Linked DNA regions of Homo sapiens: all the other regions are linked to region 2. Evidence: fine-mapped expression QTL. A gene starts in region 2. Each other region holds a variant in brackets. All regions are shown on one strand. Distances are between the middles of the regions.

Region 1 (4,000 bases), 32 kb before region 2:
CCCTGCGCCAGGACCGCGTGGCCTTCTGCGTGACCTCCTTCATCATCACCAACCTTGGCTCCCGCTTCATCGAGCCGCCTGTGCTGAATATGAAGTCGGTCGGTGGCTCGGCTTCCTTGTCCCCACGGCCCATGGGTCTTTCCTGCCTCCCTCGCTCTGTTTCAGTCTCCTTCATCTCTCTCTCCCACTTTGGTCATGTGGCCTTCTGCCTGATGCTATACCTGTGCTTCTGGCAGGTGCTGGAGGATTCAACCCCACGATCCCCACTCGTGTTCATCCTGTCCCCTGGTGTGGACCCCACCAGTGCCCTGCTGCAGCTGGCAGAGCACATGGGCATGGCCCAGCGCTTCCACGCCCTGTCCCTGGGCCAGGGCCAGGCCCCCATCGCTGCTCGGCTCCTCCGAGAGGGTGTGACTCAGGGTTGGTGTCCATCCTTTCTTCCACCCCCATCTTCAGCCCAGTCCTTGTCCCTAGAACCTCCAACCTCAATTACACTACTGTCCCTGTACCTCCCACTTCTACAGAGGGCCCCAGAAGTGGCAGATCTTAGTGTTAGGCCCCCCCAGCACCCCCACCCCAACACCAGGTGGAAAGCATGAGGACAGGCAGGGCTTAGGAAATGATTCCCACTGACCCTGGCATCTCCTTGCAGGACACTGGGTGTTCCTGGCAAACTGCCACCTGTCACTGTCTTGGATGCCTAATCTGGACAAGCTGGTGGAGCAGCTGCAGGTGGAGGATCCTCATCCATCCTTCCGCCTCTGGCTCAGCTCCATCCCCCACCCAGACTTCCCTATCTCAATCTTGCAGGTCAGCATCAAGATGACCACAGAGCCACCAAAGGTATGTGGCCATAGAGAACCAGCATCATCAGGGCCATCTGGTCCACCTTACCTCCTGCTAGCACCAGAGAGAGGGCTTAACCAACAACAACATGATTTGATTGTCCTCAAAAAATTCCACCTCATTCCTCTCCTGTTTGTGCCAAACTCCTAGAACACAATAATAAGAGCTAACATTTCTTGAGTGATTATCATGTGCCACGCACTGTTCTAAGTTCTTTACATTTATTAACTCGTTTAATATGGGTGTGTGCACACACACACCCTATAAGGTGAATACTGTTACCCCCATTTTAAAGATAGGAAATGAGATACAGAAAGAGTAAATAAGTATTCCAGAGCCAGAGTTTGGGTAGTTGGGTCCCCAAATTCATTCTTTTATACCTCAGAACCTTCCTGCCTCCCATCATTTCCTTACATCCTCTTCCGAATGTCACACTTCCTGCCTCTTTGCCTTTCCTTTCCTCCGACTCTACTGAAATTTTTATCTCCAATATCACAAGCTCATCACCAAATGCAATCATCACCACCCTCTAAAATCTGCCGTGTCACTGCGCTTCACCCACTCACCCCTGCTTAAACTATTTTAGTAGCTTTTCATTGCGCTTAGTTGAGATCAAAATCCTTTTTGCTCACCCTGTGAAAAGCACATGGACCAGTATGTATCATCCTCAACAGATAAGAGCTGTTTGAATCACGCATGGGTGCCTTTCATCATTATTAATCCTCCTTGGCCACTTGGGGCAGCTGTCACAGTCGACTGTCCCTTTCCCTGGCTCCCTGACACATCACTCCTGCTTTCCCCGCTGTCTTTTGACATATCATTTATTACTTCGGTGTTTCTTTTTCCTCTGCCTGTGACCAGATTGCAATACTTACTCCTTAACCTAAGGACTAAGAGGGGAGGGCCAAAGAGGGGAGGGACCCTTGGTCCTGGCCCAGCGTTTCTCATTCTACTTTCTCCTTTCACAAGTTGTTGGAGAAATTGTCCTTTTCATGATTTCAACTCTAATCCCATCTCTGGCATCAGCCCCAAAGTCAGTGCCAGCTCTGAATTGCCATCAGATTACAAAGCACTTCTTGGCACACCAGCACCATAATAGCAACTCGTTTCACACTTTTTTGTCCCAACCCCCAAG[A/G]CTCAGAATGTGATTACGTTTAGAGGCAGGATATTTTTTTAGAAAGCGTCTTGGCCAGGCATGGTGGCTCAGGCCGGGTGTGATGGCTCACACCTGTAATCCTAGCATTTGGGGAGGCTGAAGCAGGTGGATCACCTGAGCTCAGGAAGGTTAGATATGGAGTTCAGGTATGATAACCCTGGCTAGAGGTGGAGGTTGCAGGGAGCTGAGATTGCGCTGTTACACTGCAGCCTGGGCTCCGCCTCCCAGGTTCAAGCAGTTCTCCTACCTCAGCCACCTGAGTAGCTGGGACTACAGGTGTGCGCCACTACGCCCTACTAATTTTTGCATTTTTAGTAGAGACAGGGTTTCACCATGGTGGCCAGGCTGGTCTCGAACTCCTGACCTCAGGTGATCCACCCACCTTGGCTTCCCAAAGTGCTGGGATTACAGGGATTACAGGTGTGAGCCACCGTGCCCAGCCTGAGTTTTACTTCAAATAAGAAAGTCCCTGTATTCACAGCCCCCAGTTGCCAGTTTGGGATATAGTCCTGGAGTATATTCCTGGGTCACTTCCTGCTATCCAGTCTTTTAAAAAAGCTAGATATTAAGTAGGTACAAAAGAAGATTTATAAAATATATGCAAGTTATAAAGGATCATGATTCCTTGAATATCTGTGTGCCCATCATCTTTTTTTTTTTTTTTTTTTTTTGAGATGGAGCCTCACTCTGTCGCCCAGGCTGGAGCGCAGTGGCGCCATCTCGGCTCACTGAAACATCCGCCTCCCAGATTCAAGCGATTCTCCTGCCTCAGCCTCCGAGTAGCTGGGATTACAGGTGCCCGCCACCACACCTGGCTAATTTTTGTATTTTTAGTAGAGATGGAGTTTCACCATGTTGGCCAGGCTGGTCTTGAACTCCTGACCTCAGGCAATCTGCCTACTCTCGGCCTCCCAAAGTGCTGGGATTACAGGCATGAGTCACCGCACCCGGCCCATCATCCTTTTAAGAAAGAAAAATCCCAGCATTTTCTTTGAAGTCCCAGTGTGCCTCTTCCCAATCTCATCACTTTCCCTCCCCACTCAGAGGAAACCACTCTTCTGAATCTTGTATTTGTCATTTTCTTTATAATGTTTTTCTTTTCCTCTGGAGTTAGGGATTCTTTTTCATTGTAATGCAAAAGTTTGTATTGCTAATGCAACCATTGCTATATATGTTTCTCTGCAACTTGCTTTTTTCATTCAACATTATGTGCTTGACATTCATTCATGATGTTCTTCGCGTTTTGTAGTTCTTCATATATTCCAGATCCTAATCCTTTGTCAGTTATGTGTTTTGTGGTTTGTCTCTTCTCTTTTATGCTGTTTTTTGGTGAAGAGAAATTCTTAATTTTTATGAGGTTGAATTTAGCTATCTTTCCTTTTTTAAATGGTTTGTGCTCCTTTGTCTTGTTCAAGAAATCCTTGCTTAAAGATTGTAAAAGTACTCTCCTATACTTGCCTTCCAAAAAATTTATAATTTGACTTTCACATTTAAGTTTTTAATCACTTGGAATTCATTTTTGTGACTGTGGTATGAGGTAGAGGTCCAATTTTCTTTGGTTTTGTTTTGCTTTTTTTGAGACAGAGTCTTGCTCTGTCACCCAGGCTAGAGTGCAGTGGCGTGATCTCGGCTCACTGCAACCTCTGCCTCCCAGGTTCAAGCGATTCTCCTGCCTCAGTCTCCTGAGTAGCTGAGATTACAGGCACCTGCCACCCTACCCAGCTAATTTTGTTATTTTTTGTAGAGACGGGGTTTCACCATGTTGACCAGGCTGGTCTCGAACTTCTGACCTCAGGTGATCCACCCGCCTCAGCCTTCCAAACTGTTGGGATTACACGCATCAGCCACTGCGCCCAGCCAATTTTTTTTTTCTACATGGATAACCAATTCTCCCAGTACCACTTCTCAAATACTGCGAAAGTACTTTTCTGATCTGTAGTGCCTGCTCAGCCTTCAATCATGTTTCCATATATGTATGGGTTTCAGGGTCCTTTATTC
Region 2 (4,000 bases):
GGCGTCGGCGCGCCCCGCAGCCGCGGCAAATCCGGGCCTCACCAGGGTCCCAGGCCGTTCCCACATCAGGAAAGGTCTGGGTCTAATGACCCTCGAGTCAAGAACAACCCTGACGGCTGCCCTCCCTCTTATTCGGCCCAAGGACTTGAAGCCCGGCATCTTCCGACCTGCCCTGCCCCCACCCCTGCCTGAGCGGAGTCCTAGCATCCCCTTGGGAGCAGCAGCGTCAGTGGACCCAGTGCTGAGAAAAGCCCCCACATCCCGGAAAACCCACTTTCCTTTCACGACCCACATCTCAATCCTGAACATCTAGGCTGGAACCTGCACACCTCCCCCTCAGCTCCGTCGTGAATGGGACAACAATCTCGTGCCCTCGTTTTATGGTGCAGCTTCTCTAGTATTTCTGGGGCTGGGGGGCGGGGCTGGAGGGGAAGGAGTGTCCACGCATCAATAAAGATTTAACGAACTGAACGCGCTCTGCGAACAGAGGCGTGGCACAAGTACTATCACCCCTGCCCTGTGCCGAGGAACAGGAAACATGTGCCAGGGCTACAAATGAGCAGAGAGGAGCATCCTTGAGCCCCCTGGCCTTATCGCTTTTGTCCGTTCTTCCTGGCCAGACCTCAGAGATCTGTTCCTGACCCCAGGCACCTCCCCCTCAATAGAGTGGAGGGGCCCAGCCTCGGCCGCCTGCCGCTGCTCCCCTTGGGGACCTGAGCCCGTTCTCTGACCCCAGCTTAGAGGAACTCGGTGTTGCCAGGCCGGGGTGGGAAACAATGGGCCTTCCGGAGCAGGATGACACCCCCTCCCGCCACAATTCTGGAGCAGCAGCCGTGGGAGGGAAGATGCAGGGGCCCACCCTGGGGCCTGTTGGTCCGTCATTCAGCCCTGCCCCCCATCTCTACCCCTGAACTTGAGAGAACCTTTGGCACCCCTGGACATCTTGGTTGGGAGAGGAGGGTTGAGGGTGCTCCCGACTTCAGATGAGCCCTTTCCTCTAGGGATGGGGTGTGCTATCCTGCACCGGCATCCCAGCTACACACAGACACAGGCCCATTCGGTCATAAGTTTAATGAAGTCTGAAAGGTAAGCGCCATCGTGGTCAGAGATACGGAGGCCCGGTCAGACTCTCCCTCTGCACCTCAATGGAAACGATGTGGTGTCCGGGTACCATGGCCAGGCCCAGCACACGGGGCTCCCCGGCAGAGAAGGAATCTGGAAAGAAGGATCAGAGCATCAGGAAAGTAGGCCAGAATCAGTCCCGCCCCTCTGAGCCACGAAAACGAGCCCCAGAAAACAAGGGTTGCAGCCAGGCCCTTAAGGGGAAATGCCTTGCGTAAGGTTCCGCCACATTACCAGGCGGGTGTGCATTCCCCGGGCACTGACCCGACGGCTTGAGGAACTCCTGCGCCGAGCCCAGGATGACATTGCAGTCACGGTCAGTGCAGAGGAAGCAGCCGACCAGTGTCCGTCCATCTGTCATGCGAATGCGCATAGTCTTGTTGAGCAGCGCCTCTAGCTGCTGTCGGGCGCGCTCAGCCGCCGAGTCCTCGCGCTCTCCGTCCGAATCCTGCGCGGGGTGTAACAAGCGCTCAGACCGCGCAGCCCAGGCTGCCCGCCCGCGGAACCACAGCTCCCGGCAGCCCGCGGGGCACTCACACAAAGCCCAGAGGCTGCCGGGAGCTGCAGTTCCCCACCCCCTCCATCTTGCTGCTTGACTGCCCCTCAGTCCCAGAACCAGAGCCCGTGCTAACCCCAGCACTGGAGCTGCTCTGACGCCGACTGCAACAGCCATTCTCTTCTCGTAGCAGCATGGTCGGTCCAGCTCCGGCCATTTGCCCGGAGGCCTCCTCTGGGCCTTTCAACTTCCTAAGCACCTTTCAGGTTGGGTGGTCCGAGATCTCGCGAGCGCTCCCGACCTCTTTCCTTTCGCGAGATCCCCTCTCCTCCCCCTCCTAGTCTCCTCGGCAACGGCACAGATCTCGCGAGCTTCTCCTACTTCTCTAGCGCTGTGGCTCACTGAAGCGTACTACGCCGGATGTCTTAAGATATCGCGAGACCTTTACCTCTGGTTTCTTACACATCCTTTAGAAACTGGAATTTAGCGAGAATACATTCTTTCATACTGCCTCCTCCCTTGTTTTTCTGTCTCAGAGAGATAGTCTGTCCTAAATATCCCATGTAGCCCAGGCCACTGAATTAAAACGGAGCGTATTCGTTCTCTGCCCCACCCCGCAACTCCTGAAAGCGGCGCAACTCAATTACTTGATCCTTATATGCCCCACGCGGGACTCATACTACGTTTCCCGTGAACACGTGCAGTCCAAACCCCGCCCCTGATATTTATCTCAGTGGACGGTGGCCGGAAAAGGACAATGGTTTCCATGTCAGCGGATAAACGCTCTCCCCTCGGCTCCCGGACGCGACGGAGGTCGTAGTAGTAGTGAGTACGTGCTGAGGAGCAAAGGAGTAACCAAGAGATCCAGTGACCGACAGAGCAAGAGCCATGCCGCGCCGGGGCCTGGTGGCTGGGCCAGACTTGGAGTATTTTCAGCGTCGCTATTTCACGCCGGCGGAGGTGGCCCAACATAACAGGCCCGAAGACCTCTGGGTATCTTACCTGGGACGCGTGTACGACCTAACGTCATTGGCACAGGAATACAAGGGTAAGGGCCACACGTTGGGCCGGGGCCGGAGTGTGTGTGTGTGCACGCGCGCGTTTGCCTGGTTCTCGAAGGGCTGGCATTGACAGTGGCTGTGCTGCTCTTTTCAAGGGAACCTGCTGCTGAAACCCATCGTGGAAGTTGCAGGCCAGGATATCAGCCACTGGTTTGATCCAAAGACCAGAGACGTGAGTTATGCTGGAACCTGGGATTGTGGGTAGAGGAAATGGAGAGCGGGGATGGGAAGGAAAGGCGGAGGCTAGCCAGAGCCTAATGGCTGCTCTGACACCCTCGCCCCAAACCCTCCTTTAAAGATCCGCAAGCACATAGATCCGCTGACCGGCTGCCTGAGGTACTGCACCCCGCGGGGCCGCTTTGTGCACGTTCCGCCTCAGCTGCCCTGTTCGGACTGGGCCAACGATTTTGGGAAGCCCTGGTGGCAGGGGTCGTATTATGAGGTGGGGCGGCTGTCTGCCAAGACCCGGAGCATCCGCATCATTAACACGCTCACGTCGCAGGAGCACACACTGGAGGTGAGAACTGGTGACAAGGAGCAGGTTAGAAGGAATGGGGAATCCCAGCAAATCTCCAGGCCGATCTTCAGGGCAACATTTTTTCCATAACCGGTGGGAGTGTATTTTCTGTCCTTTACATTGAGGCAACTGAGGAAAGCACAGCACCTAGGTCCCCAGGGTTGGGAATTCTAGGAGTGTCTGGGTCACAGGGGGACAAGAGACTCCTTTATAAGCCTGGGAACAGCAGTTCATGTATCTTAGTGATGGTGGTCCTTCGAAGCTCTTACACGCCGTTTTGGACAGCAATTGGACTTTCTTTTTAATCTACTCTGTTGCATGGATATAGTGAGGGGACAGTTGACCCTTTATGGCCATCCGGTAGTTAGAAGTGGCTGCCATTAAGATCTGTAGGACTTTAGGGTCTGCTCATTGCATGCTGGAGTTTCAGCTTTTTTTTCCCGGGGCCGTAGAGTACCTGAAGCTGCTATCTGCCAAGGGAGGCACTTTGATCCCAGCGTGTGTATATGTATACTCCATCCAGAATTCTGGGGGTGGGGTGCTTCTGTGTTCTCCAGGTGGGGGTTCTGGAGTCCATATGGGAAATCCTACACCGCTATCTCCCCTATAACTCACATGCTGCCAGCTACACGTGGAAATATGAAGGGAAGAACCTGAACATGGATTTTACCCTGGAAGAGAATGGGATCCGGGATGAGGAGGAAGAATTTGACTATCTCAGTATGGACGGTACACTTCACACACCTGCAATACTTCTGTACTTCAATGATGATCTCACGGAGTTGTAGGCAAGGAGATGTACAC
Region 3 (4,229 bases), 64 kb after region 2:
GATAACTTGAGCTCGGGAATTTGAGATCAGCCTGGGAATCGTGGTGAGACCCCATCATTACAAAAAAAAAGAAAAAAGCCAGGCTCAGTGGTGCACATCGTCCCAGCTACTCAGTAGGCTGAGGTGGGAGGATCACTTGAGCCTCAGGACTTCGAAGCTGCACTGAGCCGTGATCATGTCAGTGCACTCCAGCCTGGGTGACAGAGCGAGACCCCCGCCTCTTAAAAATAAATAAAAAGTGGCTGGGCGCGGTGGCTCACGCCTGTAATCCCAGCACTTTGGGAGGCTGAGGCAGGCAGATCACAAGATCAGGAGATCAAGACCCTCCTGGACAACAAGGTGAAATCCCGTCTCTACTAAAAAAACAAAAATTAGCTGGGCGTGGTGGCACGTATCTGTAATCCCAGCTACTGGGGAGGCTGAGGCAGGAGAATCGCTTGAACTAGGGAGTCGGAGGTTGCAGTGAGCCAAGATCGCCACTGCACTCCAGTCTGGCGACAGAGCGAGACTCCATCTCTAAATAAATAAATAAATAAATAAATAAATAAATAGTGGCTGGGTGTGGTGGCTCACGCCTGTAATCCCAGCACTTTGGGAGGCCGAGGCAGGTGGATCACCAGGAGTTCAAGACCAGCCTGGCCAAGATGGTGAAACCCTGTCTCTACTAAAAATACAAAAAATTAGTTGAGCATGGTGGCACTCGCCTGTAGTCCCAGCTACTCAGGAGGGTGAGGCAGGAGAATCGCTTGAACCCGGGAGAGGGAGGTTGCAATGAGCTGAGATCATGCAACTGTACTCCAGCCTGAGTGACAGAGCGAGACTCCATCTCAAATAAAATAAAATAAAAATAAATAAAAAGTTATCTCAGGCCATTAACTTTGGTGGTGATTTGTTGTGTATCAATAGATAACGGATATAGAGGGTTTCCTACTGTTTTTTTTTCCCTGTATGATAAATATATTTTTTGAGACAGGAGCTTGCTCTGAGCATCAGGCTGGAGTGTAGTGGCATAATCTTGGCTCACTACAGCCTTGATCTCCCAGACTCAAGCCACCTACCTACCTCAGGCTCCGAGTAGCTGGGACTACACAGGTATGAGCTACCATGCTCAGCTAATTCTTGTATTTTTGTAGAGATGGGGTCTCCCCATGTTGTCCAGGCTGGTCTTGAACCCCTGGGCTCAAGTGATCCCACCTGCCTTGGCCTCCCAAAGTGCTTGGATTACAGGTGTGAGCCACTGCGCCCAGCCTAGATAAATATAACATTGTAATGTGCCCTGTAAGTCCCTGTGTGTTCTGAACTTACCCCTTCCTTCCTTCCTTCCTTCCAGACAGAGTCTTGCTCCGTCGCCCAGGCTGGAATGCAGTGGTGCAATCTCAGCTCATTGCAACCTCTGCCTCCTGGGCTCAAGTGATTCTCCTGCCTCAGCCTTCTGAGTAGCTGGGACTACAGGTGGGTGTCACCATGCCTGGCTAATTTTTATTTTTATTTTTATTTTTTATTTTTAGTAGAGATAGGTTTTCGCCATGTTGGCCAGGCTGGTCTCAAACTCCTGACCTCAAGTGATCCACCAGCCTCAGCCTCCCAAAGTACTGGGATTACAGGCGTGAGCCACCGCACCCAGCCATTACCCATGTCTCACTTTCTGTTCTGTTCCTCTCTAGACACTCTGGCTTTGGGTACTTTTGGCTTGTATGTTCTTTTCTGCCACAGGCCTTAGCATATGCTCTTAACCCTCTTGCTTAACCCTTATTAACACCTATTCATGCTTCAGCTCTCAGCGTAACCTCACCATGTCAAATAACCACTACAGACTCAGTAATACCATGTGCTTTCCTCTGGACTTTGGACAAGAAGTTTGTATTTATTTGGTGGTTCTGTGATTGTCTCTCTCCTCAGCAAGATATATGAAGGTTCTGAGTCTGGTTTTGTTCACCCTTGTATCCCTGTGCTATACCATAATAGGACTCAATAGACAAATACTTGCTAAATTAATGAATGAGGTGGGTGATAAATATGGCAAATGTCCATATACAAAGGAGGCGTGACAATAAAGGAAGGCTTTTTTTTTTGTT[T/G]TTTTTTTTTTAAATCAAGGCGTTTCCAAACTCTCTCTGAAGGTAATTCTAGGAGGAATGGTGTTTGTTTGTTTTTAATATTTTGAGCAATGGGACAGGTTCATTAAAATAAGTGTATAACCCTCTAAGATAACTATTTAAGGAGAATCCTATTTGGGATTGATAAATTCTCGTATGTTACAGAATAACTAATCATAGTTTAGTAATATATTTTACTTCTTTGTTTCCTCCACAGTCTTGCAAAATGAGTGGGAGATGATGGGGTGGATTTAAGTATTAATTAGTTGATGCAGTTGGCTGCTAATCCAGTAAATGGCATGCTGCTGACTTTTCTCTTTTGGAAATTGGTTTTACTTTGCTTGCCCAGCTTTTGGATCAAGGCGGGATGAGGACGGGTAGAAGGGAGATGGGCAGGTTGTATTTAAGGAAGGCAGAGCTCATCCTCCTCTACCTTGTGATCTTTAAGGTTGTAACTTTCCACCCAATTCTGTTCCAGTGAAATGATAACATCTTTCCTTCTCTCTGTATTCCCTCAACCTCAGACCATTCTTCACTTTACCTCTCCACCAAATCACAAAGCCTCAACCTCAGAACAGCATCTCCCCCTCAGCCACAGGTTCCTTGGCATATGTGTGGGTGTCCAGCGAGAGAGAAATGAGAAGTACAAGGAACAAGTATGGCTAATATTACTTTAAATACAAACAAATAAAGGCAGATAGCTAAGTCTTTCATAGAAAGAGGAGGAACAAAATTATGAAGCCAGATTTCTGGGTTCTAAGGAATGTGGTAGCTGAAGGAAGAAAACTGGGGCCTGGGGTATCTGGTGTCTTGGTCCTTGATGAGAACAGTGACTAGGAGCCCGATGCCTGGGTCACCAAGGTGAATGAGCAATGGAGAGAAAGCTAATGCTAGCAGATTTCTAATGTTAGGGGGCGAGAGGGCCAGACAAGTGAGACTGTGACCCTAACCTCCCAAGCCCCTGCAACTTTAGACACTGTGAGGATCAAGCTGAGGTTTATTTACAGTTACCTGGGAAGTCTTACAGAGAAGGGGCCATCATTATTGCTTTAGGTTTATTGCCAGGAGGAAGACTGCAGTTCCCCACTGCCAGGTAGGAGGCCCTGCTCAAGGCTCAAAAGTCTATACCCAGACGTTTTATTTATTTATTTTTTTTAAATCAAGGCGTCCCTGCCCGTGACGGAAAGGCTGTCACTAATTCCTGCCAAGAACAGCCCAACTGTTTTCCAAGGACCACCCCGGCCACTTTCACCAGACTGCAGCGTAGATGTGCTATTACATTTCCCTCTACCTTTGTCAGTGCTGTGCCACTGTAGACCCCACCCTGACCGCCCTCCTCCACCTCTGGGCTGGGAGGCAGGGTCCTGGTTTCCCAAAGATTATCATTTACTTCCTGCCAGGACCAGCCTGGCTTCCTTCGTACCGAATACGCTAAGAGCCCCATTTCCTATGTTCCAGATGACATCACAACTCACTCACTAGGTTATTACCCTTTGATGACATTTCAAGGGCCCCTTTTGAGGTACACTGTATGTTTCTTGTATGTGCTGGGTTTTTGTTTTTGTTTTCTTTTCTGGGCCTCGGGAATAAGGGGAGGAGAGTAGGGAGCGAGACGAAGTGGCAGAGAGCCGACGGCGAGTAGCTCATGCCCGGGATTTGCAAGAAGGGCCTAGAAAGACGCAGCAGGGGGCGGGCGTGCTACTTTCTCTCTCGACCCCACTGCAAAAGGATATGGCTTTGTTCATGCGTATCACTACTCGAAGCCGGGACTCGTTGGTGGGCGGGGCTAGTCTGGCTCCGGCCGCTGCGTGGAGGGATCCGGAGCGGGAGAGGCGGCTGCGAGGAGCGGGGCTCGGGCGGGTGCAGCGACACCGGGTTGGGTCCCTGCGCCCGCGACAGACTACTTCTTGGAATGCGGCTTGTTTCCCAGGAGCCCGTCTATTTCCATCACTGTCTGCGGGGTCAGCTGGCTCAGCACCTGGAGGAGAGTGGGACGGTGGCGACGGCAGCCCATGCTGGGTCACTGAGAAAGGGCATGGGGTTCCAGTAGCCGGGGAAGCACCACAGTGGGGTCAAGTGGCAAGGCAAGAGCCGCAGCTGTGCCGGTGCCTCGCTTTCCGGCCCTGGGACCTCTCA

The links.
Region 1: its variant is fine-mapped to the expression of NAA38 in whole blood (TOPMed, PIP above 0.99).
Region 3: its variant is fine-mapped to the expression of NAA38 in whole blood (INTERVAL, PIP 0.95).

Annotation. Positions count from the first base shown.
Region 1 is chr17:7,823,885-7,827,884 of GRCh38, forward strand. DNAH2 (dynein axonemal heavy chain 2) reads left to right here. Exons shown (of 86, transcript NM_020877.5): 75 at 1-98; 76 at 237-420; 77 at 653-843. Among named protein-coding and RNA genes, the nearest start is that of KDM6B, 8.3 kb to the right of the region's middle. The variant A/G (reference allele first, on the strand shown) is at 1,982.
Region 2 is chr17:7,855,629-7,859,628 of GRCh38, forward strand. It overlaps NAA38 (N-alpha-acetyltransferase 38, NatC auxiliary subunit), which reads right to left and starts at 1,931. Exons shown (of 3, transcript NM_001320925.4): 1 at 1,755-1,931; 2 at 1,387-1,570; 3 at 1,057-1,215. The coding sequence starts at 1,835. The coding sequence ends at 1,103. It overlaps TMEM88 (transmembrane protein 88), which reads left to right. Exons shown (of 2, transcript NM_203411.2): 2 at 1-471. The coding sequence ends at 86. It overlaps CYB5D1 (cytochrome b5 domain containing 1), which reads left to right and starts at 2,375. Exons shown (of 4, transcript NM_144607.6): 1 at 2,375-2,666; 2 at 2,775-2,851; 3 at 2,978-3,196; 4 at 3,754-4,000. The coding sequence starts at 2,507. The coding sequence ends at 3,984. RefSeq lists enhancers at 357-894, 1,016-1,095, 1,628-2,490, 1,746-2,115, 1,843-2,137 and 2 more.
Region 3 is chr17:7,919,109-7,923,337 of GRCh38, forward strand. It overlaps KCNAB3 (potassium voltage-gated channel subfamily A regulatory beta subunit 3), which reads right to left. Exons shown (of 14, transcript NM_004732.4): 14 at 2,751-4,071. The coding sequence ends at 3,994. Among named protein-coding and RNA genes, the nearest start is that of RNF227, 4.9 kb to the left of the region's middle. The variant T/G (reference allele first, on the strand shown) is at 2,076.